Regions from separate parts of the Homo sapiens genome. Here region 1 is linked to region 2. The links come from fine-mapping of genetic effects on gene expression. A gene starts in region 2. The other region holds a variant in brackets. All regions are shown on one strand. Distances are from middle to middle. Region 1 has its middle 46 kb from the start of LINC00702. Region 2 holds the start of LINC00702 (long intergenic non-protein coding RNA 702).

What was found. PIP is the estimated chance that this variant, and not a neighbour inherited with it, causes the effect.
Region 1: its variant is the best candidate, but not a certain one, in a credible set for the expression of LINC00702 in fibroblasts (GTEx, PIP 0.72).

The regions. Positions count from the first base shown.
Region 1 is chr10:4,190,469-4,205,997 of GRCh38, reverse strand. No RefSeq gene overlaps it. Among named protein-coding and RNA genes, the nearest start is that of LINC00702, 46 kb to the left of the region's middle. The variant G/C (reference allele first, on the strand shown) is at 6,723.
Region 2 is chr10:4,236,065-4,251,593 of GRCh38, reverse strand. It overlaps LINC00702 (long intergenic non-protein coding RNA 702), which reads left to right and starts at 7,682. Exons shown (of 3, transcript NR_108040.1): 1 at 7,682-7,771; 2 at 7,907-8,090. LOC105376369 (a long non-coding RNA gene) reads right to left here and starts at 4,548. Exons shown (of 2, transcript XR_930588.2): 1 at 4,234-4,548.

The DNA of each region.
Region 1 (15,529 bases), 46 kb after region 2:
GGCAGGGCTGGGCGAATGGGTTCAACCCTGACTGCTCTCCACCGTCCATGCAGGACCACAGCCTAGGGTGAAGGGGGCCCTTCTCTGGGTGTTGCTGGGAGGGAGAAATATTCCTGAGATGAGCTTAAGACACAGCACTTCTCCCCTGTGGTGTGAGAGCCACTGTGCCTACAAGGACACTCACAGAAGCTGTCATTTGGGATTCGCTGCCAAGAGCAGAGCACGGCTGTTGATGCGTCGAAACTGAAAAGCCTTCTTCAGCTGGGTGGGCAAGACGGCTGTCTATGGAGACCCTCCTGAGTACAGATGCACCTGCTTTTAGCCTCACATAGACGGGGGCTCTTTAGGACTGTGGGCTGACCCTGAGAAGAAGCCCCATGGAAGCCTGCTTATCTCCAAATCCCCCGTCCTTTCTCCTGAAAGACAGTCTCAGTGAGTGAAGTTCTAGCATTATAGATTTGTTCCTTTGTAAGTCTGACAGGATTTATGGTTTGCAAACATTTTTTATGAGAATGAAAATTACTTTGGGAAAAGTCATTCATTTACCACCCTTACTAGTCCTTCCATAGGAACTGATTTCCTATACGAGCTTGAGACATATTTGGAATTGGGCAAATTCCTGCAGAGGGTAAGAGGACCAGGAACAATGAAAAAGTGTGGCTGTCCATGCAGGTAAAAGGGCCCCACAGGCTCATGTGAATTACTTTATTTAACAGCATCCTCTGCTGTTGCTGAGGAGAGAGGAGTGGCCCTGGCTTCTCAGTCATATTTTCCAGCCCTGACTTGTTTACCTGTCTCCAAGAATTGACCCAAAGTAACACCTTTAAAATGGAATTTATTCTCTCCTCTATTTTAAATAACACCTGGATGAATGAGAGTCTTTACAACAGATACGACTAGAAGGAGAGACGCTAGGAAACACAGAGGGAAACATGGGTCATTTGCATCTGCAGCTGTGTGTGTGGCAGCTCAACACTGGAAGCTAAGTTTTCCTATTCAGGAAGATGAAGCTCTCGGTGTCTGTGCCCCATCCCATGCCCCTGGCTACCTATTCACATCCGGGGCCAATTAGTGCTGTTGAATTTATTCCAAAATCCTCAGGCAAAATAGAACTCTTTTTGATTACCTTGGAGTTGACTTCTCCCTAGTTCCTCTCCACAATGATTTCTTGCTTTTCACCGAAACTCTTTGAGAAGTTCTATTTTTTTGTCATTGGTCAGAGCAGCATTTTATTTTGCATTTCAATTCAATTTTTAGTGATGGATTTTGGATTTTTATGTTCACCTGCCAACTACTTTAACCCAGAAAATAGCAGCATTGAGCAGTTCCTGACGTAGCGGAGGTCTACCAGTTGTCATACAGTATCAGCTGCCATTACCCCTTCTGTTGTGTGGTCCTGAGACTGGTGTGCACCTTCACAGCTCAAGGGTCAGTGGTTGCTGCAGGCAATTCTGCTGTTGGATAAATGCTTAGCCCTTTGAGCTTTACATATTTTTAACAGAAGATCAAAGAAGCTGAAAGAGTGATGGAAATTAAACTGGTCTTATCTATCTATATTTTAATGACTGACTTGGCATCCTAGTGTGGTAGCAAGAACTTTGGACTGAAAAAAATATCACTTCACAGCTGTTCGGCTGTGTGACCTGAAGCTTTTTTTTTTTTTTTTGAGACGGAGTTTTGCTGTTATTGCCCGGGCTGGAGTGCAATGGCACAATCTTGACTCGCCACAAACTCCACTTCCCGGGTTTAAGCACTTCTGCCTCAGCCTCCCGAGCAGCTGTGATTACAGGTGTGCACCACCATGCCCAGCTAATTTTGTATTTTTAACAGAGTCAGGGTTTCTCCATGTTGGTGAGGCTGGTCTCGAACTCCTGACCTCAGGCGATCCACCCACCTCGGCCTCCCAAAGTGCTGGGATTACAGGCGTGAGCCACCGTGCCTGACCAACCTGAAGCAATTTAAGTGGACTTTCAAATTTTCAATTTTCCCATTGGGAAAGTGTAAGTTTTGGGAAAAGTCAGTAGTTTTTACATTCTTTTGTTCTGATGACGCTTTTTTGTAAAATCCACATGTGGAAGCCATTAGATCATTTTGTGGGGCACAGTTTGAAGACCACAGGACTTCATGATTTCTGAGATCTACCCATTCTTCCAATCCCAGCTTCCAGCATCCTCTGGGTACATCAGAACCTCCCAGTAAAAGGATGGTGTTGGCAGCTGTCCTGGAAATGCTCAGCCTCGCTGGGAATGGGTCCCCTCTTACTTGCTGGGTGACCGTGAGCATGTTGATCCCACCTCAGAGCCCCCGCTTCCTCCTCCTCTATAAATAGGACCATGGATAGTAGCTTGGAGAATTCAATAAAATATAGTGTGCTGAACACTCAGCACGTGCACTAGGAAGAACCAAAAATGAGCAGAACCCTCACTGATATTTAATGTCCCCTAATTTGTCAAGGGACATTATATTGCATAAGATTTGCTTTAAAGAAAGTAAATTCCTTTCAGGCAAGTTGTTTGAGTCACCAATAGGTTTAAATCAAAGGAAGTTTTTGTCCTCACGATTTTGCATTTTTTAGTGCCTTTCCACAACAAATGTATAAAAGGAGCATTATTTTTAAGTGTAACTATTTTGGAAACTTCTTACTTAAAAGCAATTTTCTACTACAAGTCAAAGGATTAAAGCAAAAAAAAAAGGTGAATCTGCAGCAGCATATATTGTATATGTTTTCTAGAAATACTTTTTTAAAGAAGGCAGAGAACCCTAAGCTAAAAGCAGAATTTAAATTTCTAGCATTCATTCAGCAGCTGTCTCTATAAGGAGACAGGGTTGAATTGTGTCCAAGTCAAGCATCAGATTTCCAGGGAAAGCAGAGGAGAAATTAGAAAGTGTGCAGGAAGCAGCAGAAATGGCTGTTAAAAGGTGATAGCCTTCTAAAATTGACAAGACTTCTTGGGTCAGATAACAGATCCAAGGGCTAGAGGTCTGAATTCAGGCATGGTCGGGGGAGGAGGAGGGGGAAGTGTACAGAAAAAGTGGGTCAGTGCCAAGGGCATCTCAGCCTGTTTGGAGGAATTCAAAATCATTTAGGTAAAGGGTTAGAGGTCAGAAAAAATGATCAGCACAGCAGTGAGGGGTCATTGGGACGTCCTTGGATGGAAGTCCTTCAACCCAGCAGTGTTGCAAGGCCTCAGGTTCCCGGTACCTGTCAGTTTTTGCAGCTCGAGGAGGACAGCCTGGGATCTCAAGCTTATGTTTCATAAAGTTGCCATCCTAAGCTTTGGCATGACAAAGTCTCTCTCCTTGACAACGTTCCTTAGGGCCTTCTCAGCCCTTTTCTCAATGAGGATTCCACGTTGGCTCCCATCCTCGCTGGGCCTGCATACCTCCTTTTCAGCAAGAATCCTGCTGAGGCAGTTTCACAAGAACTTCCCACCCTTAATGCCTGATCATCACAGGCATCCTATCAAATTTCATACCCCTTTCTTTGATGCCTTATCACCTTGGCCTGCCTTCAGCAAGGATTTGTTGTTATTTTGGTTGTCATTTGTTTGTTTGTTTGTTTTATTGAAACAAGGCAGATTCTAGGCTTTATGATTAAACTCTAAACTAATCCACAGGCTGAGGGCCAGATATTCTCTCACCACAAAGCATGAGCACATATAAGTTCAGTCCCATGCCACAAACATCTGTGGCCCTTTCAAGCCAGATGTGAAATCACATCCTGACCAAAAATACAATTTTTTTAATGTGACGTTTTCGAGTGCTTTTAAGATTTTATCTGTACCTACCATGACATTCATCATTTAATCAGTCTCACTCTGCCAACTCAAGGCGACTGTATATCATGCTTTTTAAAACCATCGAACATGCTACAATGCCCAAAACACATCCAGATTGTTATTGCATTGGGTCATTGCATAATCTTTCTGGCTTCGCGCCGCTGCCTCCTAAACTTCCCCAGCCACCAGCACAATCTCTCCAGGAGCACTATACTGTCCCTGAAAGCTCCTCACCCCATCCCTGGAGGGCAGTTCCTGCTCCCCAAATAGCTCGAGCCTCCTTGCTTGTCCCCTTTAATCCCCCAGTGCTTGGGGTACCCATATATTGACAACGGGTGTTAAGAAACAATGTCATCTAAAACCCCTTCCAGATGCAATTACATTTTAACTCAATGGGAAATGGCTTGTCATACACTTCACGAGGAATATGAATGTTGGCATTTTAGGAAACTGCAGCCAGTGAATATGAAAGAGATGCTGCCCAAAGGGCTGGTCATCCAGGGTGCCACCTGCCAACCTTGTGGTACGAGTGTCCTGGGCTGGAGGAAACCTGCCTCTCCAGGGACATGGGAAAAGAACTCATCATGGGAAAAAGAACCATCTTCTGCCTCAAAGACAGCATGGTTATGTAGGAAGATTGAGAAGAGTAAATAGCTCCAAAAGAAAAAACAAAGTAAAACAGAACACCAAGTAGGAGAATATCAACTGTAAGTATACGCCAAAGTGAATTAAAATCCACCATGGAGAAGAACACGCATGCTGAGAGGGGCTCTCTCCTTGGCTCTGCCGTCCTGAAGGCAGTGTGGGGAGAGAAGGAGCTGGCTTTTGATAGCAATACGGACACTCTGGGAGCTGTGCTGAATGTTTCATACTTTCCTTAATGTAATTTCCACAGCATCACCACAATCATTACTGTCTCTGCTGTACATGGGGAAAAGCTTGAGTTAACAGAAGTTAAACAATTCACCAGTGATCACACTTACATGAAAAAGCCAGGTATTCTATCTGTCTGATAACTTGAGCCTGGCCATTACATTCAGTTCTGCTGTCTTTAAAATAAAAACCCTGGATTAAGTCATCTCTGGTGGTGTTTTTTTTTGTTGTTGTTGTTGTTGTTTTTTGAGACGGAGTCTCATTCTGTCGCCCAGGCTGGAGTGCAGTGGCGCTATCTTGGCTCACTACAAGCTCCGCCTCCAGGGTTCACACCACTCTCCTGCCTCAGCTTCCAAGTAGCTGGGACTACAGGTGCCCGCCACCAAGGCTGGCTAATTTTTTTTTTTTGTATTTTCAGTAGAGAAGGGGTTTCACCGTGTTAGCCAGGATGGTCTCGATCTCCTGACCTCGTGATCCGCCCGCCTCGGCCTCCCAGAGTGCTGGGATTACAGGCGTGAGCCACCACGCCCGGCCTGCTTTGTCTACTTTTATTTTGAAATCTTGGGGATCATATATGGTAGATGTGTTAAAACTACAAAGAAATTGTCATATGGCCAGGTCTGACTATTTTTTTGTTGTACTTAACTTACTCATTTATATATTAAAGAAAAATGGGTCTAAAATTAATTCAATTTCAATAAGATTATTCTACATAGCAAATATAACTGGTGTTTTATTTATTACATTACGTATTATCTATTTTTATTATTATACTTAACAATATATTATTCATAAATAACATGATAAATATTAAATAGGATAAATAATATTAAATATATTTACAGATAAAAATACATTATTCTGTATTATTATTTATAATGATATATTACTTATATCACTGGCATTTTATCTTAATTAAATCAACTACCATGTTTCATTAAATATTTAAGACAAACATGTACATAATATAAGGATTTTTTTTAGTGATTAGTTATATTTGGGAAATAGAAAATAAGGTTTGGAGAGATCGTACTAAAGAAAGTACACAAAATGCATGAATGTCACAGACTGATACTAGAGAACCAGAAATTTAACTCGAAATTTTGAATGAAGTCTAGTAAAAAATACAATTAATTAAGTGATTCAGAGATTCCATGAGGGAAAAGAAAATTACTCATTTAGGAGGGAGGGACACATCTATTTTAGTTCACTGGCACATTTTCCCCATGGGTCTCCCTAAAAAGGACAGTGTGTGACATGGTAAACACTGTTCATGAGTGTTCCAACCAGAAACACAGTGGCCATTTCCATCGTGCCCCTCAAGGCATGGGGCGCAATGCCACAGTGCGATTCCACAGGAGAAGTGTCCTGGAGCGACAGGCTGGAGAGAAGGCATGGGGCACAATGCCACAGTGCGATTCCACAGGAGAAGTGTCCTGGAGGGCACAATGCCACTGTGCGATTCCATAGGAGAAGTGTCCTGGAGGGCACAATGCCACAGTGCGATTCCACAGGAGAAGTGTCCTGGAGGGCACAATGCCACAGTGCGATTCCATAGGAGAAGTGTCCTGGAGGGCACAATGCCACAGTGTGATTCCACAGGAGAAGTGTCCTGGAGGGCACAATGCCACAGTGTGATTCCATAGGAGAAGTGTCCTGGAGCGACAGGCTGGAGAGAAGACCCAGGCGGCTGGCAAGCTAAAGGGCACCATCCAGAAATGCAGCTCTCTTCCAGCCTAACTTAGAGAAGCCTGCATTTCAGGATGGATGACATACTCCTCAGGCAATAGTCCAATTATGTTTTTCAATGAATCCTTCTTGTAATTAGCCTTTTAATAAATAATGAGCATGAGTTAGTAGCAGGTTAGACTCCCCAAAAATATCTGGAATACAGCAGCTATTCCATGCTCTTGGCTTAAGGTAGAAGCGTGTGGTTTAACAAGATTTACAACCTCTTATGAAACCTGAGGTACCTGACAAGAATGTGTAGTTGTATACATAATTAAATGCCCAGCTCACATAAAAAGGACAAAGGGAAGTAGAGCCCAAATGTTCCTGAAGAAGTAACAT[G/C]TTCGGTCTTCTTGCTTACTGACTCATGCACCTGCAAGAATGCAACATTTTATTCCAGAGTCAAGCATAGCAGTGTTAATTTTCTTAAGTGGGTATGACCCAGAATCATCCTCAGCCTTATAAAGATAAACAAAAAGCAACTTTAAAGACCATAGGAATGTACGGTAAACATTTAATCTTGAACCAGGGAGTCCAAGGGAGTCCGAGGTTGCAGTGAGCCGAGAGCACGCCAACACACTCCAGCCTGGTGACAGAGCAGATTCCGCCTAAAAAAAAAATAATAAATAAATAAATAAATAAAAGTAACAGAGTGCATGAAGCTCCTATGTAAAGCTACTAATTCAAATCATTCAGTTAAATGTTGAGAAACATACGCCAGACTTGATAAAGATTGTAGAATAATTCATCTGTAACTACATTGTGATAATTATTGAGATTTCAGAGTCAATAGCCTATTTACCTCTCTCCGAGTCTATGTCAGTACAAGGATCTGGCCTAAGTAAACAAGTGTCTTAAACTTTCTTCTTTCTGGTAGATGCAAGGGAGAGACCCAGGGAAAAATTCTCTTCACTTCAAAGGATTATCAAGTTGTCAGTACACATGTTAATACTAGAAACATTAAGAAAAGGAAGAGAGATCAAGTTCTTGTCTTCAACCCTTTGGAAAAATTATTATCAGATCTATGAGTGACCATTCCTTGGACTTTGATTATTGATTGCCATGTTGTTAAATAGCAGGTCCTTAAATAAATGGTAGAGAATTCTTCCTAGGGTAATATGATCTGTAATGTTCCCGTGTAAATTCCTGGAAAACATGACTCAGTTGGCCACCTGTCCACATGCACAGCTTCATCACCACGCTTCCTCACATTCTGTGCTTTGATAAGAACAAATTATTTTTCATTCCTGGGCCTCCACACGTGCTTCATGCATCCGTGACTCTGCAGGAGCTGTTTCCTCTTGTCTGGAATGCCATCCTTCACCTTGTTCATCCTGAAAACCCACCATGTACGCTTCAAGTCACATCCAGACACCTCCTCTTCCAGAAATGTCCTTTCTGCCCTCCCTCAACCCTATGAAGAAGTATTAATTCTGTCTTCTAAGCAAAAAAAATTTAAAAGGACTCCTTAATATTTCTAGCAGCAAAATCAATAGGTTTCTAGTAGCAAGGAAGTCTCCCATTCAGTACGAGCGCCTCTCATTGTAATTACACCATGCTGCATTGTTTCAGGCATAGCCACATCTAAATCAAATCATATTTTCTTTATGCACTATAAACCAATCTTAAATTAGAGTCAACACCTTATCACTTTACATCAGGATAATATAAAAGTTCTCAAGGTTTAAGTGTGTGCACTTTATATTCAAGGAACTAATGCAAATCCAGGAAGGAAGAAAATGCTGATCTTGTCTTTTGGTAATCTGTTATACTTCTTTATGCCACAATTTTTTTGCACATTTTTTTTTTGTCAGGCAGCCTGGTAACACTCTACAATTGATAGTGTAATTTAGTCTCTTCATGATTCAATTGTATTCATCCCAAAGGCTCATTTCCTTGAGTGTCTTCCAGCTGGAATTCAGAATTTTAAATGAAAGTTTAGCAAGGAAATTCAAGGGGTACCGAAGAAATAAGTCATTTCTTTTATTACAGGAGGGCTTCTAGGCAGATTAATGAAATGCAGTAACATGGATATTAGTTGTTAATAAGGGTATGGCACTTGGTCTATTGCATGTCATCTATCACCCATTGGATCTGATTGATGGGACACACCGTGTCTAATATGATGTGCATTAAGCACTTTCCCTAAAGGATTAAAACACTGACACCTTGTGAATGAGAAGCAGTTTAATATTTCAACAAGGATGTTTCCACTGTGATTCATTACAGGTAAAGCATAATTTTCATCCTAGTGAAATCAAAACTATGTACCATTCTGTATTCAATCTTCTATCCCACATATACTGCCTTCACAGTACTTCTTAGACAAGCACATCCTGTTCTTTTATTAGAACAAATAATTATCTGGGCCCAGATACACCCAGTGGGAAACAAATATTTTGAAGACTTGCCTGAGAGCTTTGCTCCACGGTAGAAATGATTCCACCAGGGTAATATTTTCTTTGGAAACTGCTGTAAACCGACCTATCAGGAAAGAAGAGGTCTGGAAAATTGTGTGATGATCAGTATGCACTTAGCTCAACAAAAAGAGAGTAGGCTGAAAATAGAAAGTAGGTCTTGTCTGGCTTAAGTAAATTCTGAGATGACAGGTCTATTACAACAATGCAGCCCAACAAATAGTCCTAATATAGAAGCTCTAACAGCAAGGGAAACATCTGAGAAGCACAGGAGGATACTTCTGTTTTTTGTTAACTGTTTTCAAAGTGCTAGGGGAGGAAGGTAATCCTTTTCTGATTCATATGAGTTCAGGAGAGAATGAGACAAAGTTGGGAAAGTATGAGAGGAAAACTATGATCATGCTTAAAAATAGAAAATAGGCAACAAAGTGCTAGGCACCCAGGCTGACTTAAATACCGTAAAATGTTAAGGCTGTAAGTGAAATTAAAAATACTTTTTTACCATCATTTTTTTCCAATTTTACTGTCAAAGAAATTATAGCCAGAAAAGTGAAGTTGCTTATTTAATGCCACACAGCTAGCTAGAACCTAAAATGGAATGATAACATCCACGGTCTTGCAGTAGTACCATGCTTTTTACACAGCAGCAAGAATCCATCTGTAAATATTAATACATGTGAAAATAATCAGAATAGAGATGAGAAACAGCAAAATACATACTTAACCACCACCTTTTAAGAGTAAGAAGTGTAATAACGGGTCCAAAGAAAAAGGTGGCAATCGAGACCAATGTAAGTCATTATGCACAGCTGCTTTGGGAAATTTCCAGAAGGAAAAAGTTTTCAGGAAACAACCATATGGCTTTGTTTTGTATTCATTTACTCCATCCACATTGACAGAATTTGTTCTGCTTAAAACATGGGGGATACAGGGCAATGTCACTGTGATGTCCCTGTCATCACGGAAGGTTTGGGCCACTTCAAGATTGGCATAAGGTCTAGGCAGACCTCAGAGACTAAATACTCCATCCCTCCTCCATCAAGCATGTGAAAATGCACCCAAATACTACATTAGGGGAAAACTCTTATGCAGGTTAACTTGTGAAATTTTCTGGCAAGCATTATTTCATTCAACTAATAACTTGGCTGTAATTTCCAAGAAATCCAAGGAGTGCACTCTGAAATTTTTTCTTTTTTCTTTTTCTTTTCTTTTCTTTCTTTTTTTTTTTTTTTTTTTTTTTGCTGAGATCGAGTCTCACTCTGTTGCCCAGGCTGGAGTGCAGTGGCACGATCTCAGCTCACTGCAACCTCTGCCTCCCGGGTTCCAGCGATTCTCCTGCCTTAGCCTCCCGAGTAGCTGGGATTACAGGAGCACACCACCATGCCTGGCTAATTTTTTTGTTTTTGGTAAAGACGGGGTTTCAATGTGTTGGCCAGTCCTGGCTCCTTGAGCTCCTGGCCTCAAGCGATCTGCCGGCCTCGGTTTCCCAAAGTGCTGGGATTACAGACGCTTGCCGCCATGCCCAGCTAATTTTTCTTTTCTTGTTTTTTTTTTTGTTTTTTTTTTTTTTTTGTATTTTTAGTAGAGATGGGGTTTCGCCATATTGGCCAGGCTGTTCTCGAACTCCTTACCTCAGGTGATCCGCCCACCTCCACCTTCCAAAGTGCTGGGATTACAGGCGTGAACCGCCGCGCCCAGCCTCACTCTGCTTTCAACTCCACAATTAAGCCACCGCGATTGGATGCTGGGACAGGAGGATGCAATGAAATCACTGCACAAGCAGCAGCTCCCTGAGTGACTCAGGATGACATCAGCACAGGACCCATGGAAACCATCAGCTTCTAAACTGGACATCTGCACCCTGGCCAAATATAAGTGCTCAGGCCCCTCAGGTGGTGTTTGCATTCGCTTTGCACCTCTGTGCAGCCTGCTCGGGTCAGCGCTGGGCTCCAGCAATGCCAGCGTGGAAGCCCGGCTTGGTGCTGTTGGTACAAATGTGGCCTTTATGAGTAACTAAGAATATTCTTCAAAATGTGTTTGATTTTCCATAAAAAAATGTCCTTCGAGAACAGTTGTACCAGCGGCCACCCCCATATCCTTCACTCTGTGTCTTCACTCTCAGCCCAGGACACCGAGTTGGCGTCTGCATAGTGCAGATGTCAGCCTGGGTTGCTGGGTTCCTTTATTCATTCAACATGGGAAACATAAGGAGCAGCAGTGGGTGTTTCTCATTGGCTGGCTGTCCCATGTGATCAACGGGATCCACTCCAAGCACAGGTGGGGCTGTGGTCCTCCCCACCTGTGCTGTTGGAGAGACGCTCAGACCCATAGCTGGCCAAGGGCCTCTCGGCATGGCAATGCTGTCATGTTGGTTGTGACTAGTGTTACTATTCCCTTTATGTTTCTGTGGTGAGAGATTAACATAGGAAATATTAGAAGGGATTATTAAATTAGTTGGCTCTCACAATGGAACACAAAATGCAGCCCTGTGGGAACTGGGCACAAACGGAATTGGTGAATGAGGATGATGTGTAAGATGGGGCCACTGAGACCACAGGGCATGGTGACAGAGGCTCGGGAAGCTGGCCACCATAGCACGGGAGAGATCGGTGAAGATGGGGCAAGTTTTGCCTCATGTTGTTTCCTTTTGGGAACGTTTGTGTTTCTATTACCCATGATCTCTCATCCTTTGGTGCTAGTCTCTTTCAAATGTGCTTGGCATTCAGTATCTTTGCTTTTTATAGCGGTCATCAGGAAGGCTCCTGTGAAGAACTGTCTGAGTAATCCTGAGTAATAAGGAAAAAGCCAGATACACTAAAATATGAGGAAATATCAGCCAATGCAAAGAAAAAACCTCCTAAGACCTAGAGGTGCGAGTGAACTTGATAGCCTCTCAAAATATTAAGAAGTTAATGAATAAAAGCACATGAAAAAATGAAGTCAGAGAAGAAGGTGGGAGCCGATCCCATAGGGCATCTTGGGCTATAGGAAGGAATTTGGACCAAGTGTGGTAGCTCACGACTGTAATCCTAGCACTTTGGGAGGCCAAGGAGGGAGGACGGCTTGAGGCCAAGAGTTCAAGACCAGCCTGGGCAACATATGGGAGGAGAAAAGGGAAGCTTGCTTGAGGCCAAGAGTTCAAGACCAGCCTGGGCAACATGGCCAACCTCATTTCTATCAAAGAAAAAATTAAACGAAGAATTATCCAAGTGTGGTGATGCACACCTGTAGTCCCAGCTACTTGGGATGTGGATGTGGGAGGATCACTTGAGCCCAAGAGTTAGAGTCTGCAGTGAGCTATGATGGCACCACTGCACTCCAGCCTGGGTGAGAGAGTGAGACACTGTCACTCTCAGATTTTCTGACATAAGAGATGAGAATATGGGGAATGAGAAAGAGAAAACTTATGATCCACCCTTAGGTTTGGGGCTGAGCAACTGGATGGATGATTGCAATTTTTACTTACATATGAAAAAGAATGTTGGGGGAGCAGACTCATGAGGGGTGCAGCGAAGTGGCGGTGGGGCAGAATCACAAATTCTGTTCAAGACCTTTTTATAAACAAAAGGGCCAGCAAATAACTAAGGGAGGTGTTGAGTAGGCAGAAACCATAATGCTTGTTTGGAAATTCAGATTGGTTCCAATGCAACTGGTATAATAAGAAATAATTTGAGCATAACAGAAATTCTCAAATGTCATGTTTGCTTATGTCTATTAGGAATATTAGATCAATGCGGAAAGCTACCCAGATGTACCAGGCCATGAAGGAACACACAAACGCACCCACGCATTCAACTTAAATTTCTCCCTCATGTCCTGAGCTCACCTTTCTACATCTGGGGTTAGGACATACCTTCCTGTATCAAATACGCCCTGCCACCACTTCATAACCCTCAGGACACCCACTTCCAAACAGAAACACGAGGGCTTTTTCAAAATAAACTGTCAGACTTATTGTAGTTATGTCTTCTCAGCCACTTAGCCCATGCAAAACTGTGCTGAAGTCCTCAATCATTTTCTAACTTTTTCACTTGTCACTGATGAATTTTTGAGCATTGGGTCTCGCCCCATTTTCCCTGTAAGTCCTGCGATTTTGACTGCCTGATTTTACTCAAAGTGATGATCTTATTTCAGAACTCACTGTAAAAGTTCCTGGTGCTGTAGTGAAAAGGCAGGGTGAGAGATGGGAATTTGGGAGTCTTGGATACCAGGGTTAGAGGACGTCATCTGTGGAGCACCTTCACGTATGATCACAGAGTGTGATTTCTCAGGAGCTGGCTTCCTCCTCTAGGAGCACTGGGTCCTGGTCCCCATCTCCACATCTCACCTTCTAGCACAGGGCCTGGCTGCTGGAGCTGCTTGGTGATTTCCTCAGCGAACTATTCCTGGAACAATATATGTCATTCTTCAAAATCCTAATCGCTGTGAATAAAATGGTGTTCGTTGCAACTTTGACTGAGTCTGAACCGAGTTGTACGCAGGCATTAAGTCCATTTTATTCTTAAAATATGTGTGCAAATGTTGGCTCCAGTTTTCGTTTGTTTGTTTTGGGTGTGCATGTTTTGTTTCATTTTGGAGGCTCTGTAAAGTTCTCCAGATTGTGTCCTGCTGACCCCCCCGAATAATGCAGCAGGTGTGGCCCACCCCATGGCCCTCTCAAGGGCCTTCATGACAGCTCATGCCTGAGCTGTGGCCCATGGCGTCCACGGACCCACAGGAAACTTACATATCTTTTTTACTCCAGTTGTCCCATTCCGGGCCCCATGGGCATCATACCCACATTCCCCCCAAGTCCCCAGAGCATTAGCCCCTATATCAGTGGGGGTTCAGCTGGTGTGGAGGGCACTGTGGCTTGGGCAGGAAAAGTGAGGCAGAAAAGATAGTGGCTTCTTTAGAATAATGTTCTCTTTCTCCCTCTGTAGCCATCTTTATAGATGGGAGGATAGGGGATTTGCTCAATTGGTTTTGTTAAAATCACTCCTTTTAGAAACATGTGAAATAAAATGGCTGGCACAGCAGTGAGAAAGTTTGAAATCCTAGAAGATGAAGCTTTAGGGCTTTTGTCATAGCTGTGGGCAGAACAAGCGCCCTACCCATTCATGTCAGAGCTGGTGAAGTGGGGCAGGGAGGGACGTGGGTAGGGCCTTTCCTTACCGCCCTTAAAAACCCCTCCATGTCCCTGCTAATCAGCTGCTTTGTCCCAGAAAGATTCTTTTCTTTGCGCTTTCCTTAAACATGCTACTTTCTCTGAGTTATGAAATGGGTAAATGCCAGTAAATAAATGCTACCTCTTTGTGTCTCATAATCCACTTCCTAAAACTGCCCACCATTGCTACCTCCAAGACCCTTCCCTGAACTGGCCCAGCAAACATTTTATGACTGGCTCTCAAGCAGACCCACTTGTGTCCAAAATCCTTAGCAAATGGGCCAAGCTGGCTGCCTTCCTGCTTTGGGTACGTAAAATTCAATGTGTGTAAATAATCACACTCCCAACCATTCACTTGGGGAAAGTTATTGTATTTCCCATGCTGTTGAAAACCCAGCGTGTCAAAGTCATGCTTCATAGCATCACCCCGGGCAGATATATCATCGTCTCACTCCAGTAAAACCTCTTTATGGGTGATAGATTTTATTTGTGGGTTTATGACAAATATCTGAAACATCAGGTATTCATGTTGTAATCACCTTTTACGGGCTTTAGTTTTCTCCCATGGTCAAAAAGAACACGCACACCGTTGCCTACGATTTAGAAAGGCTGAGACTTGGGTACTCATTCCCCTGCCTTGGGCAGGTTGCTCAATTTCCCCATGTTGCATCTTTATAAAACCTACCTTGCACAAAGGTGATGATAATTAATTGGGCATTAATTCTAGTGTTCTTTGAAGATTTAAAAGTGCTCTTTGTGGCTATCACTTCAACAGCTTTATGACTTTGGGTCTTTTTTCCTGGGTTTTACTGATTTTTTTTTTAATTAATACATTAACATTAACTCCTAAATGAGAATGTTCTTCTGGCATTTTTTCAGTTTTGAAGAGTAACTTTTCAGGTTTGGCAAAAGAAACTGACATAAAAACATGCCAGGATTTGCATTAGTGAGATTTACTATATTTCTTTGTTCTTAATGCTAGAGGGTGAGAAACCTGCCATGCACACAGACAGGCTTGAAATATATTCTGCAGATAGTTCGTTCTAAGAAATGCTGAGTGAATGGTACATGTGATTGGGACACCATTATACGCTGGCACAACCTGGGTTGTGGGGGAATTGGTTCGTTTCCATAGGGAGGAAGTGAGGACTGTCCTGGCAGCTACTGAAGGAGGAAACGGTCACTGAGGAGAGAGATGTTCATGCTGTGGACTGTCTTTCTGTACAGGGATGAGGTCAGGCATCTGAAGCCAAAAACCCAGAGACCCATGGGTCCTCCTTTGGACGTGTAGGCCAACGTGTAGGGCCCACCAGACACGGTCATAAATGCCTCTGGGTTTCTTGAAAGCAGACACTCTGGAAACAGGAACTGCATTTCTCTACCACACACTCAGCATTGGGATAAACGAGTCCCGCAGATAAGGCAGAGAGGTTTCTAGAAATTGTCAAAATGGCCCTGGAATCTAGTTCTATGTATGCACCTGCTGTGTAATCTTGAGCACATTTTATGAGTTGTCTCATCAGCTGCATCCTTATCAATTGAACAACAACAACAACAAAAACATGATCTCTTCTGAGAACGGAATG
Region 2 (15,529 bases):
AGCTCACCATCCTCAAAACACATTATCCTGAGATGCTCCAATCTTTGCAACTTACATCTAGCAGGAAGGAAAGAGGTCTTTTAGATTCAAGTTGAGCATATCATGGGTGCTCATAGTCTCCTGATGAGAACTGGATCCCATGGTTATGTGGGAGCTGGGAATTACAGTCTTCCTGGACACCTCTGACCAGGAAGAATGAGGAACTGATGTGTGCAGAGAAATGAGTGTCTCCTCCACCAAGCTCACCTCTTTGATACTCTCAAGCCTATTTGCTAGCTCCCATCAATCCATTATAAGCCCTTCCTTTTGCATCTCTACCATAGGTAGAAGTACGGAAAACATTCTAAGAAAATGTTACTTCCAAAACTGTCGAAAAATAATTATCTGGGATTTGTGTATCTGCAATAGAATAGAAAACTACTCCACTATCCCTGTACCCCCACCATAGACCAAAGAAAAACAATGGTTTAACTTTTTGAGCTAAAATAAAAGAATCATGATGAAAGAGCTATTTACAAATATGACATTCTTTTATGTACTTTTAGATAGAAGACATTTATCAGCAATGGTATCTAAAAACTGCAAAAGTAATTTATTGCTGAGCAGGGACAATGCACATTAAATTAATTTTTAATTTTAGGACTTACAAAATATGACAAAGGAAGAACAACAGAAAACTTGCATAACCCAATTGAAAGTAGGTAAAAGACTTGAATAGATATCTCCCTAAATAAGGCATAAAATAAGCCAATAAACTCATGAAAATTGTTCAACATCACTAATCACTATGGAAATGCAAATTAACACCACAGTGAGATATTGCCTTATATGCATTAGGATGACTACTATTAAAAACAAGAACAGAAAATAAAACAGAAAGTAACATGAGTTGGCCAGGTGTAAAGCCGTTGGAAACCTTGCATACTGTTGGTAGGAACATAAAATAATGACGTAGCCACTATGAGAAACTATGGTGGTTCCTCAAGAGTTAAAAATGGAATTATTACATCATTCAGCAATTCCATTTATGGGCATATATACTTGAAAGAAGTGAAAACAGAATATTGAAGAGATATTTGTACACCCATATTCATAGCAACATTATTCACAATAGCCAAGAAGTGGAAGCAACCCAAATGTTCTTTGGTAAATGAATAAACACAATGTGGTGTCTACATACAATGGAATATTTCTTGGCCTCCAAGAGGGAGGACATGTTGACACATGCTACACAGATATTTTAAGACCGAGGTGTAGATACTGCAGGGAAGTAGAGCAACACAGGCCAAGGAAGACAAAAGACTGAGTGAGACCAAATGGCGATGAGTATCTACCCTGAGGATATGATATTTGAGCTCAGGTTTGAAGGATGAGTAGCAGTTAGCCAGAGAAAAAGGGACTCTGAGGGATGTGGCAGTGGGAGTAAGACTGAGATCTTATGTACGAAAGTCCCTGGCAGGATAAAAATTGGCACATTGTAGGACCCAATGTCTCTGAAACACAAAAAGCAAAGGGACAGCAGAGGGACACAGCCACATGAGACAAGAGGTAGCCCACGGAGAGGTCATGAGTAGGCTTTTGCTTTTTAAGAGGCAAGGGAGAGGTCAGGCACAGTGACTCATGCCTATAATCCCAGCACTTTGGGATTACTTGAGGTCAGTTGTTTGAGACCAGCCTGGCCAACATGGTGAAACCCTGTCTCTCCTAAAAATACAAAAATTATCCAGGCATGGTTTTGGGCACCTGTAATCCCAGCTACTCAGGAGGCTGAGGCAGGAGAGCCGCTTGAACCTGGGAGGTGGAGATTGCATTGAGCTGAGACTGTGCCACTGCATTCCAGCCTGGGTGACAGAATGAGGCTGTCTCAAGAAAAAGAAAAAAAGGAAAGGGGGAGATAAAAACAGAAGGATTTTAAAATAGTGGAGAGGGTCATGTAAAAAACATTTTTATCTTGAAAAACCCTTCTGGCTACAGCATGGAGAAGTTCCTAGAGGACTCTTGGAATGGGTGCAAAGATAACAGCTAATAGCTTTCTCAGTATCTGGGGCAACAGATGATGGCAGGTTGGGCCAAGGTATGGTAACTGAGATGGGAATGACCCAGTGGCATCACGGGGAGATTGTAGGTGTGCAGTAGGATATGGGTTTTCCAATTTCAGAAGAGCTGTAGCGCTCCTTTGTTATTTTAGTGTTTCATTGATGTTGAGCTGACAATGGGAATTGTGGGAGTGAATAGGAAGAGTCTAGAGTGAATATGAAGATGACCTGCACTTAAGTAACTCCAACACAGATTGTTCTATGTTTAGAGGTGACACTGAAAAAAAATAAAAATAAAAAAGACTGAGAAGGCTAAGTCACTGATGTCAGACAAAAATCAGTGCAGGTCGTCTACTTGAAACCGAAAACATAAGTGTTTCACAAAGGAGAGATCAGTAGTACAAATGCTCTTTCATAGTTAAGGAAGATGCATGGAAGTTGTCATTAGATTTGCTGGCCTGGGAATCATTGGTGGTCAGGAATATATCAGTGGAGTTAAGGGGGTGGCGGTCAGGCTGAGGGATTAAGACGTGAAAAGTTGGTGAGAAGACAGCGGCAAAATATAGTCTATATTCTTGAGACACTTCCCTGGGACAGGGGAAAGATGGGTCTATAAGTAGGGAGGGATTTTGTTTGCCTGTTGTTTTTTCAAATGACCTAATAGAGATAGGTTTTAAAAATATTAAACTAATATATTTTCCTATATATTCTCAATGAAACATGTTCTCTGGCGCTGTTCAATCACCACAGCTCTAGGAAAGAGGGAGAGCAGAAGCCAACAGAGGACGGGAGGAGATAAGAAATAGGGTAACACCTGGACAGAAAGGTGGAAGCACGAGAGATGGAGACAGAAGGGGGCAATGTTGGGGCACACATTCTCCGACCCTCTTTCAGAAGGGGAAGGATTTTGAGCAGCAGCTAGGAGGAAAGGCTGTCTCTCTGGGATGAGAGAGAAGACTGATGAACAGGGTGCCCACTTACCCACTTATGATGCTGCTGTCATTACCTATAATGCAGTATCTGTGAGCATGCAGCTTGGTGAGGCGGGGAGAGCCTGGGGTGATCTTTCCTGAGGCATCCTTAGGGTGTCTGCAATATGATAGCAATGCAGTTGTTTTCCTTTGCCCAAAGGATTAGGAGGGTTCTGAGTACAGAGCCAAGGAGCTTTTCTGGAGGTGCTTCAACAAACCAGCCGAAGTCTGCAGGGAGAGCTGCACTGGCTGAGGACTGAATGGGGTCAGATCCAGATGCCAGGGTGTACGTACTGACCTCAAGGCCTGATATTAGATAGATAGAGTCCAGCTAAATCACCAAGTCATGAGAATACACTGAACTCACCACTCAGAGAACTGGAATCAAGTGTCACTAGGGCGTCTAGCAACCAGAATGACAAGGAACATCTTCAGGGACACACAAGAAGCGTGAACCAGGAGAAGGAGTTATGCACGGGGCCCAGGCAATTCCCCCTTGCTCAGGAACCTGGAGGAAATCTGAGTTGATGAACAAGACCATGTTTCCTGAACACACTTTAACATTTAGAATCAGTCTTAACTTTCTGGATTGGGTATTAAGGGGAAGTTTGAATCAGCTTTAAATTAATAAATAAGCTTCTGTTCTTTGTATGTGATGTGCTCTTTGAACTTGATGTGCAGAATTTGGGAGCCTCACTAAATGGGGAAGATGTGGGCGCATTGATTAATGAGGATGGTCCAGGTAAGAGTGAGCTGATGAGTGTAAGGGAGAGAGATTTTCATCGTAGGATACGAAGCTGCTGAACGTTAAAAAGTTAAAATGTTTCATCCAAACTTTTTTCATGCCACCCCACAAAATCATCTTCTAAACAATTAGTTTGGGACTTTCTGTGTGGGCCCCCCCTTTTTTTTTAATTACAACACCATCACCTTTTGCCTTTCCCTAAATCAACACACTAAAGTCCTGCTGACATAATCTGCTTCCGGAGAAGAGGTTCTGCATTGTGTCTACAAAGTTTCCGTCAAGTGAAAGTTGGCAATGTAAGTCTGTGTGAAATTGTACCTCCATAGAAGCAGATTTTTGAATACCTTTCTTCATCAAAATGCTGGCAGCGAGAAGTAATCCTGATCCCACTGTATTTACTTGTCGATCCTGAATAAGCAATGCTGCATTTTTATTCGATCATAACTTAGACAGTTGCTCCATGCCCTCTCCCATGCCTTACCCTTGTGTGTGTTCATCCTCAAAGCAGGACCAGTGTAAGAGAAAACCCAGGGTACATGGAGCCATGTTTGCCCAGCTTCTTTCTTTCTTAGGTTTCTTTTCCTCTCATACCTTCAATGGGAAGCCAGAGCTTCTCTAACCTCAAATTTCATTATTTCTTTGCTCTCCCAATCCCAAGCCAGTAAAGCACTGACCACAAAAATTAAACTAAAAATTAAACTACGTTGGTGCAGTGATTCATCTCATCCTCTTGTGTTACTCATCATGTAGTGAGTACCCCTGAGATTAGAACAGGAAACAGACAAGGATCCCTAAATTACTTATTTGACAATGAAATCGTATTCATCACAGAAGGTCAGTAGAGAAACTTAGATGTGTAGCTCATGGCCACGTGTGCCATGTTTTACTTAACAATGATGTTGTTGAGGATGGTGATGATAAGATAAAGAAATATTCTGAAAACCTTCGTGGAAGAGCAAGTGGAATTTGATAGCAGTGTGCTGGTTTTTAAGAATGCCTCTAGAGGACTTAAAAATAGCCATTAAGCAGTTTTGCTGAAGCAATTAGAAAACCTTAGAAGAAAGTCCTCAGACATTTAATCAACGTTCCCTATAGCTGCATCCTAAAAATAAACGTGAAGAAAAACAAGAATATACTCTGCATTGCAGTAGGAAAGTTTGGAAGGCAGAGAAAGATAAAAAGTTGCAAAAGAAAATGGAAAATGAAAGCAAAGTGATGTGATAACTTTGTAAGGTAGCATCTAGGCTCAAACGAACTACATTCTCAAGGACAATCTTTCCTATGTTTCTTAATGTTTGTAGCCACTGTTGTGGAAGATTTAGCCTGGGGAAATGGAGGAGCAGCCTTTCCTCTAAAAAAACAAGTTAATATAGGGTCTTGCTCTGTTGCCTTGGCTGGATTGCAGCAGTGCAATCTCAATTCACTGCAGCCTCTGCCTCTTGGGCTCAAGTGATCCTCCCACCTCAGCCTCCTGAGTAACTGGGACCACAGGCATGCATCACCAAGCTCAGCTAATTTTTAAATTTTTGTAGAGATGAGGTTTTACTGTATTGTCCAGATTGCCTTTAAAAAAAAAAATCTTACATACATTGTCACTTATCTGCAGATATTGATGGGAGGCACCAGCCGAACTTGCATCTTCCTCTTTTTGAAGCTTCTTTGATTCCTGGGCTAGATGTGTGTGTGTTTAGCTCCATGACACAGAGTCCCGTCCTCTGCACCCACATAAGCAAAGGTGGAGGTGATGAGAACTGACATGAGCTCAGTCTGTCATTTGGGCTTCAACCTGTGCTTCTGGGGCCCAGCTCACCATTCCTCCTCCACCCTATACCCATGTTTTCTTCTCAGGTGTCCAGTCTATGGACTTCAAGATCCAGCATTAGACACAAAGGCAACTCTGCAGAGATGGTTTAACCAGCTCCCAATGTTGTGTAAGGTCAAATACCTGAAGACAAATCTGTAGAGTTGCTATATTTCTGGTTTAAACCTGACTTACACAGAATTTGGTACTAAGGGTGGTTTCAGAGGAATGGGATCTTAAGGGTACAGTTTTTGAGTTGTTTCTGTGTGTGTGTGTGTGTGTGTATGCGTGTGTGTGTGTGTTTGGAATTGTTTTTCTGATCTGATTAGATTTAAAAGCACTAAGTACCCTATTCACAGTGGTAAAAGAGGGGTAAGTAGTTCCTAGCATCAGATGGAGAGGTCAGAAAAAAAAAGAAAGAAAGAGAGATAGAGAGACAGAGAGAAAGAGAGAGGGGAAAGAAAGAAGGAAAGAAAAGGAAGAAAGAAAGAAAGAAAGAAAGAAAGAAAGAAAGAAAGAAAGAAAGAAAGAAAGAAAGACTCAAATTATCACCTTTACACATCTTTTATTAAGTGCCCATCTGAGTAACCAAGAATTTATTGAGTTTGACCATTTTAATGAAAATGATGAATATAATTGTGTTGGTTGGCTAGTTCTAACTACACTGGAGAAATTCAGGGCTTTAAGTACCAAGATCAAGTTCTATATAAGGGTCCTGAAAGCTTCTAGATTGGTCCTGAAAGAAATCCTATCTCCTGTAGCCAGAGAGCCAAGGTTTTTGAACAGGAAACCCAAAGTTTCATCCTGTGGGTGGCTGAATTATAGCCAAAATTGAATTCCAAACCTCATAGAGTCTCTTTTATTAAATTTAGGACATTTACTGGGAAGGAGTGGGATTCTGAGGTTTGGGAAGGGAATATATGAGCAAATTCTAGTTAATCTGGAAACCTAGAGCCCTTAATTCTGACAGCTTTCCTTGCCTTCTTGGCCAGTAGAAGCAGTCTGCAGCCGTGCCTGAGGAAGTTAGTCTCCCTTTTCTTGAAGAATCTCTAATGCCCACCACCGCCCATTAGTACTGCATTGAGAGCCCTACTAATCTTCATTAAGTTCTACTCCCACTCCTTTTTCTTCCTTTTAGACCTAGAGTTGACTCAAGTCTCAAACCTGTGATGGGATATGATACACATCCAAAGAGTTGCATGATCTGCCAATTAATATCAACAAACCCTGGGAAATAAGAATGACAATGTATCTTAAGAGTGTGGGATTAAGATGGAAATAATATACAATTGTATCATGGTATATGTTTTGAAGCGGATTTATTGATTCAGTGTCTTAGCTTGAGGGTCTAATAATGGCACTAATAATTTTCTCAATCGGTTGGCTGAATCATGGAACCAGAGGTGACCTATACGACTTGAGGTTAAAATGTCAGAACGTTCTTGGTATAACATCGAGAAACATACCCAAAGGCTCAGGGAAGTTAGAATGCAAGAGTGAGTTCCTGTAGCAGACCTGCTCACCCACCTGGATGTGCCTTTCCCTCAGCTGAGCCGCAGTGCAGACTTCATACTCAATTGTAAGCCATGGCATTACCAGTCAACGTGAGCCATCATGAACCCGTCATTATCTGATGTACTTTTCCAAGGATTTTATTACATGTTATTGCAACTCAGGGAGATAGGCAAGATTTATTCTATTGCTACTTTTCTGAGTTGAGAAAATTGAAGTTCACTTAACATTATGCATTTTGAATATTGATAAAAATAGTACATGTATCTGTGTAGCTATCAATTTGAATAGGTGAACAATCACGATAATAATGGATCGATAGTAAATTTATTCAGTTATGAACAGTGCATTCAACCACATCTAAGGATAAATATTAAGCAAAAACAATTCAAGTCACAAACTTAAAATACTCTAAGTAAGGTCATGCCAAACTACTTTAAGAATATATCTGTGGTAAAAATACATTCTAGGCTACATTACATAGAGTGAGATTTGTGGGAAATAACTTGCCCTTTTCTTCTATTAAAGGGCAGAGTTTTTTGGAAAAAAAAAAAGATAGTTCAATTTCCTCTCTCCAAGCTGTCTTTTTAAAATAACATAACATAACACATAGTTTGACACAACTCCACATGACTCAGAAGCCCTTCTTAAAATAAGACCAGACCACATTCATGGAGGCTGAGTCACCTCTAACCTTCCAAACTTGGTGAGGATTACTAACCAGAACATATTTTTATTCCTAAGATAGTATGAGAAAGTTCTGATCTTGACAGTTCACGTAACATTCAATCAATTATACCATTGCTCTATCTCTAAAGTTTTCTTTTTCTCCTTTTCTCAGTGTCTTACCAAGAATGAAAGGCAACCTATGTAAAAACTATGGGCTTTCTAGTATAAATAAAAACTACTCATCTCCAGAAAATAAACAATGACTGCTAAGATGATTGAAAAAAGAAAGGAGAAGAAAGTAGCTTGTAAAAGCGTGTGAAATGCATTCACGTTGGAATCTCCTACAGGCACTTCAGGTAAGAATTCTACCTTATCCTCTGTGTTTTACTCCAGAAAAGCATTTCCTTTTCCAGATCCAGGAAAAAAAAAAACTTTTTAAACAAAATTCAGCATTTTTTAATTAAAAATTGACACTAATGCGTATATCCTAGACTGCACTGCATTGCATATTATGCTGTTGTGTGTGATAAGTTTACGTTTTCACGATTCTGTCTGAAAGCTTAAAGATGTATGTTTTACAAAAATAGCTCTAGTACAATAGGACAATAAAACGTGAACTCTTGAAGATCTGAATTGGAATTATTTTCTGACAGACTATATTTTCAATTTCTTTATTTGATAAATGAAGATGGATAACATTGACCTCATGTGTAACTACAACGAATTCAAGGGTGTGGACATGTTTTTCAGGTCTTCAGACTGTAAACATTTTAAGTGTGATTGCTGTGAATGAAGGAAACCCAGAGCCATCATGACAAGCCTAAACTCAAAGGGGACTGATTTCTTCTACACTGAATGTTTCATTAGTGACAGGGCCCAGATAATAAAGAATTGTGCTCACTTCCTGTGAGTGATGGCTTTCCCTCAATTGTATGCTGAGTAACATTTACAGTATTCATTTTTAAGCACCCATCTTCCTGGGAGCCCTATTTCCCCTAAGCTTTCAATTGATCCTCCTAAGAGCAGAGATCACTTAGGCACTGAGCTATGCAGCTGCTGCCTGAGTCTCCTGGACGCCTGCCCTCACCTCCAGCCACATGAAAAACATTCAAGCTTTAACTTCAGAAATGTTCTCTAACCCACTCCCAGACACCCAACTGATTAAATCATAGATTAGAGGAAAAAATTCTTGCCTGAAATTGTCATCTTGCACGTATGCTGATGTCCAGAAGGACACATCCTGGTGGGAAGTGACTGCATGTTTTGTTCATATTACAAGTCCTGTTGACAAAAGAGAATAATACAGGTGTCCTCCTGAAACTGTCACCACAGTGACCTTCCTCAGTCAAAAAGAAATATAAATATTATTGTGTTTCTCGTGTCTGAGGCACCTCTGAAAGCATTTATCTTTTCAGAGAGTTCAGCACTTCATCTCACGGGTTAATTAAACCAACCTGTAGTGGCAAAGTTTAGTGGTAGTGAAAATAAACATAATCCTCTTTCTGTTGCCCAACCTTTCAGTTTCATTTTGTAATTTTTCAATACAGGGGCACAATAAGTGATAATCCTGGATTCCAAATGATTTCCACTTCTTTCTCTGCCACCTTCCCTGCCCCAACACCTGCCATCCCTCATTTACACAATTCAAGTAATCAAGGGGCAGTTTGGCTCCCTTTTTCTGGAGGCAAACTTTTGCAGAGTTTTAACTTACTCAGTGGGAAGAAAAGCCCCCAAAACACTGAAGCATACCAAGCAAATAAATAAATAAATGCACAAAGGCTCCCTGCGGTTGTCTGACGAGGATACTGGAGCAAGCAGCCTGAAGAACAAACGTCTGACTGTTGAAACAGCGAGACAGGAATAAACCCATGGGGCCACATCTGGGAGTGTGAGTGTGTGAATGGAACTAAGCTGGTCTCCCACACAACAGGAATTCCACCAAAAGTATGCGCTCTGTATGGGAGGACAGAAAAAAAATGTGTTTAAAATATCACTAAGGAAACCCAGATACATTATCTCTGCCAGACTACAGAAGACAGTACAGTTAGTGCTTGTCTCAAAATGACAGAAACAGAGAACATGCTTTGATGATGTCGAAGATGCAGGAAAATAGAAAAATAAAAACGGTGGAAAGATTTTTTTTTAATGCCCTAAAATGAGCAAGACGCCTCCCTTTTCATAGCACCAGGAGACATTTCCATTGCTTTTTTTTCATGCTTGTGGCTTTTTGAGGGCAAAGAGTAAGTGAAATCCAATAATTTGGTCTTTCTGCTCCAAAGTTTTGGCTGCCATAAACTTATTGTTCGAATATCAGAATGGTTGTTCCTGCTTTGACGCCTGTGAAACAATTTGTTTCAATATCATAGCACAGTTTTAAAAGTATGTTTTGACTCCAGAAATATGTTTGACCTCAGAATTTTGAAAGCGTGTTTTGACCTTTAAACTCTTACTTCAAGAAGACATATGTGTGCATGTGTGTGTTTGTAGGGTGTGTGTGTGTGTCTTGTAGAATCTCACATTTTATTCAGTAGCTTAGCTCCATTTCAATGCCAGTTAAATTTTAGCATTATAATAATACAATGAATTACTCTCTAAAAATAGGTTGAAATGTATTTCTATTTGTGAAGTTTAGGCAAATGACACCATCTGCAATATCCTTTAACAGATTAGCTATTGTAAAGGCATCATCTTTAGGAATAATACTTTTCTGCATCATAATAATTTCCTGTTATTCCTAAGGCAAGTGCTGGATGATTGTTGTTTCAGTGTGGATCAGCCTGACTTCAATCCATCTGTGCTTCCCAGGGCCGACTCCTGAATTCCTCCTCCATGCCATCATACCTTATTGGCTCTCCTGCTGTTACGTTCAGTCATAATGTTAAAAACTCAGACTATTAAAATGTAAAGATATGAATTCTTTTTGAAATTGTCAACATGGAAGAGTCTATCTACAGTCTGCTTTTAATTTAGCCGCAAAATGACTTAGCTGATGCAACAATTTCACATGCTGAGGAAGAGTTTTCGATTGCCGAATTAGTGTGATAAAGTGATGGTGAGGTTTTCTGTTGACTCTGGAAGCAACAACAAAAATGGTGGTGCTCTTCTCCATACCCATGTTCATAGATATATCGTTACAGATGACACTCAAACTTTGATTTTTTTTCTTTTTTGGCTGACTGCTTGAAACACATGTAGCCCCAGGAAACAAGTAGAGCCACCCCAGGGAACTAAAAAACAAGTGAGTAACCGAAGACTCTAAACCATGTGCAGTAGAAATCCTTGACTCTTGTTACAGAGATGCCTGGAGGTTAATCCACATGACAGGGATGAATTATCTATTGATGGGATATTTTTAAAATATCACCCAAAAGTTTGTAAGCATATACATAAAATTAATTCAAATAATTTAATGTGAAAGCTGAAGAATGAATCAGTAAATTTTAAGAAAAAAGTAAACCCAGATAATAAGACAAATTGTAGATAAGAACAATCACAAATTGTTGATTCTAACATGCAGTTTTCTACTGCTTAAAACCCTTTGAAGTCTTAACCAAATACACTGTCACCATTTTTATAAACTCATTTATTGTGAACCATTTATTAATTGATACACAAGCACACACTTTTTAGAGGTAGATATTGCAATAAATAATTCTGACACTTTAGTTAACAGTTTAATCAACTAAAAGATAAATTCCCGACAAATGTGTTAAATGACAAATTTTATTTTTCATCATAACCCACGTTTGAGTCTACAGGTGGTAGTTACAATATCTAAAGAGAAATTTATATCATATGTCACTGGATAAAACAAGAGGCATGGTCTGACTTTGGGAAAGGCTGAATATATAGCACAGACAGGCACTTTTTAATGGGCTTTTGCAGGCCTCAATAATCATTTTCCAAATACATTTGCAATAAGTTTCAAATAACACACTTCAAATTAAAGATCATGTAGATTCAAATGTTTTACTACCAATATTTATCCATTTACATACCATAAAATTGCAAAATTGAACATTCGTACAAAAGCATTTTAAAATGCCCCTGACTAAAATAATATTTTCTGCAAAAATACAAGTCATAGACTCTTAAGGACCCTGACAATTTTTTTTCTGCATTAGAACACAAGGAACACAGAAAGGTATAAGCACAACAAAAATATCATCAATAGATTCTGTTATTCTACTTAAGGCCAAACCAATTCTCAAGCTAAATTACACTGCAGATAATTCGGAATTAAACAGGCTTTTGTTTGCCCAGCTCTCCCACCTTCCACCCAAGTTCTTGATGTTTCAAGTTTTTCTATTTTTATATCTGGTATATGGGGATTTTTATATGAGTAACTATTCTTGTTATAAAATAGCAAGAATGATCAGTAACATAATCAACAGCAGTTAATTTGGCATTTATGATGTAAAATTGCCTGCAAGAAATACTTGTAACCAATAAAGTATGCAACCTAATTTACACCAGCAATAACAGCATTTTTCTATTAACTTGTAGGGCGATGAGTTTCTACCGTGGGGATTCATTTCCTAGCCAGCTTGCACGGGGATGAAAGGAAAATGCATATCTCCTATTTTACAGCAGGCAAAGAATATAGACAACTAATGGGAGGGTTAATCCTGAAGAGGGTTAAAAAAATACAATGTACATTTATTTATAACAACAATATAAAATTGATTTTTGCAGAACAGGTAAAAATACAGATATGACGCATGATTTTCTACATCAAACTCTGTGACACCTCCCTTACATACCATGCATCATTATCCTAACAACATCCTACTCTTTCTCTCAATCCTGACAAACAAATCACAGTATATGTGTCATCTTAATTCTCAACTAATTTCCATCATGTTTTGACTGTCAACTTTAAAGTTAGGCAAAAGATCCAAGACTAATATCCAAACTGTTTAGCAACCATGATGGTACAGGCAATGAATAATCCACAAAGATTGGCTGAAAGCAACAGAAAGCACACAGGTGTGAGCCGACAGAACATTAGCCTTCATATCACCGAAGCCCGTCTTAAACCAGCACTAGCTCTCTCTGGCCGCCTTCCTGGGGAATGGAGGGAGGGTATCGTGGAAAGGCAGAGTATTGTGGTCAGGATGGCCTGTGCAGGACCTCATGCAATTGCTGTCTCCCTGTTTCTTCCTGGGCAAATCCCTGAGACTCACTGGGTAGACATCTTCATCTGAAAGAGAGGGTTCATAGAAAATAATCCACACTTCTGGATGTGAAAAAACCATGAATGAAGGATTGGTCATTACATCATCCATAGAATGTTTACCTCTACTAGGTAGCAAAATCGAAAAGTCAGAACAAACAAAACAAAACAAAAGCACCCAATGCCTGGTTGGGAGCGCTAAGCTGTCTCCTCACTGAAGTTCTCTTGTACTCCCTGCACTAACTTAGCCACGCACTTCCTCATAGCCAGATGTCCATTGACAGGCTGGGCACACAGGCAGCCCAGTCCACAGCCCCCGGGCACAGTGGGCACACCAGTATGTGACCATGCACACACGGGCAGTGCTGCTGCTAGGGACAAGGAAGGCAAGACCCTGAAGCAAAGCTTGGTGTAAAGACTGTTTCTGAGGTCACCCTTGGCTGGTGAGACAACTGTTCCCCAATGTCTTCACGGAAAGGAAAAAAGGGACCCTACATTCTTAGAATGCTAGAATAACCCTGGTATATGCTTGGTGCTGGCCATGAGAATGGAAATATATCTCTGTTTGATTGTAAATTCTGTCCCAAGACCCATAAGAGGGCATGTCTTGCACACCTGCATGGCACGGTGCTGAGTAAGGCTCTGAGCCAAATGACTGTGGGAGGCTCTGCCAGTCTGCACTGTTACGGGCTCTCAGGGTTTGCACTAGGCTGAGGTTTCCAGGTAACATTAATACTGGGAACACTGCTGTGGACCCTAATAACAAAGGGAATGCGAAATGGGTCTAGGAGCAACAAAAGCAGTAACAGTAAAAACTGAGACACAACCATTTCTTTTCTGAATTTAAAAAAATATAGTTACAATCTTTAAGGAATCTCCACTCTGTTTTCCATAGTGGTTATACTAGAAACATTCCCACCAGCAGTGTAGAAGTGTTCCCTTTTAACTGGATCTACACCAATATCTATTATTTTTTGATTTTTTCATTAAGGCCATTCTTGCAGGAGTGAGGCGGTATCTCATGGTGGTTTTGATTTGCATTTCTCTGATCATTACTGATGTAGAGCATTTTCCCATATGTTTGTTGGCCATTTGTATATTGTATATCTTCTTTTGAGAATTGTCTATTCATGTCCTTAGCCCACTTTTTGATGGGATTGTTTGTTTTCTTGCTGACTTGTTTGTTCTTTTCTTGCTGACTTGTTTGAGTTCCTTGTAGATTCTGGATATTAGTCTTTGTTAGATTTATAGATTGTGATGATTTTCTCCCGCTCTGAGGGTGGTCCATTTACTCTGCTGACTATTGCTTTTGCTGTGCAAAAGCTCTTTAGTTTAATTAAGTCCCACCTATTTATCTTTGTTTTTGTTGCATTTGCTTTTGGGTTCTTGGTAATGAAGTCTGCCAGCAATCCCACTACTGTGTATCTACCCAGAGGAAAAGAAGTTATTATATGAAAAGGACATCTGCACATGCATGTTTATAGCAGCACAATTCACAATTGCAAAAATATGGAACCAGCCCAAATGCCATCAATCAATGAGTGGATGAAGAAACTGTGGTAGACATATACGACGGAATACTACTCAGCCATGAAAAAGAAATGAATTAATGGCATTCACAGCAACCTGGATGGGATTGGAGACTATTATTCTAAGTGAAGTAACTCAGTAATGGAAAACCAAACATCACATGTTCTCACTCATAAGTGGGAGCTAACCTATGAGGATACAAAGGCATAAGAATGATACAATGGACTTTGGGGACTTGGGTGAAAAGGTGGGAAGAGGGTAATGGCAAAAGGACTACAAATCAGGTTCAGTGTATACTGCTTGGGTGAAGGGAGGAACCCGAATCTCACAAATCACCACTAAAGAACTTACCCATGTAACCAAATAGCCCATGTTCTCCAAAACCTATGGAAATAATTTTTTTTTTAGAAAAAGGTCCAATCAGTTTGTTAAAATAACCATCTTTCAATCTCTAATTTCAAAAAACAACACATCTTTATTTTCGGAACCATGTCAGATTAAAGTCCTGAGAGAGAGAATCTTTCTCTTAAGGAAGGGTCAATGAAGAGTTAGCTTTCTGTCTCAGTCTTAACTGTAATTCTAAAGTTTGCTTTTGCTCACCATTTTATCCACATAAATTAAATATCGGTTAACACATTTAATTATAGTTTTTTTTTTCAAAATTGAGTACGTTTACTGATTTTGCCTTATTAAGTAACATATACTTGGTGTTAAAAACAAAAAACCTACACACTCACAACACACAAACGTACAGAAATTTAAATTCAAATGAACAGAAATTTAAATTCAAATGTAAATTCTACTCACCCCCAAAAACATTCTACCTCTTGCAATAAGAACCACATAAAACGTTATTATTATTCAGAGTGCTTTTATGCCTGATCAGTAGTGATGCCTGGTAGAATTTTTGACGTGACATACTGTCAGGAAAAGGGAAAACAGCTGCTCTGGAGTTATGTTACAGGTTCTCTGTGCCAACCTGGAAGAATCAAGACCGTCAAAAGCAATCAAACTAACACCTAAGTCCCCATTCATTGTGAGTGAAGGTGTTTTGCCAGAGTGCCAGTGGAAATTTCTGGGGACGCTGCT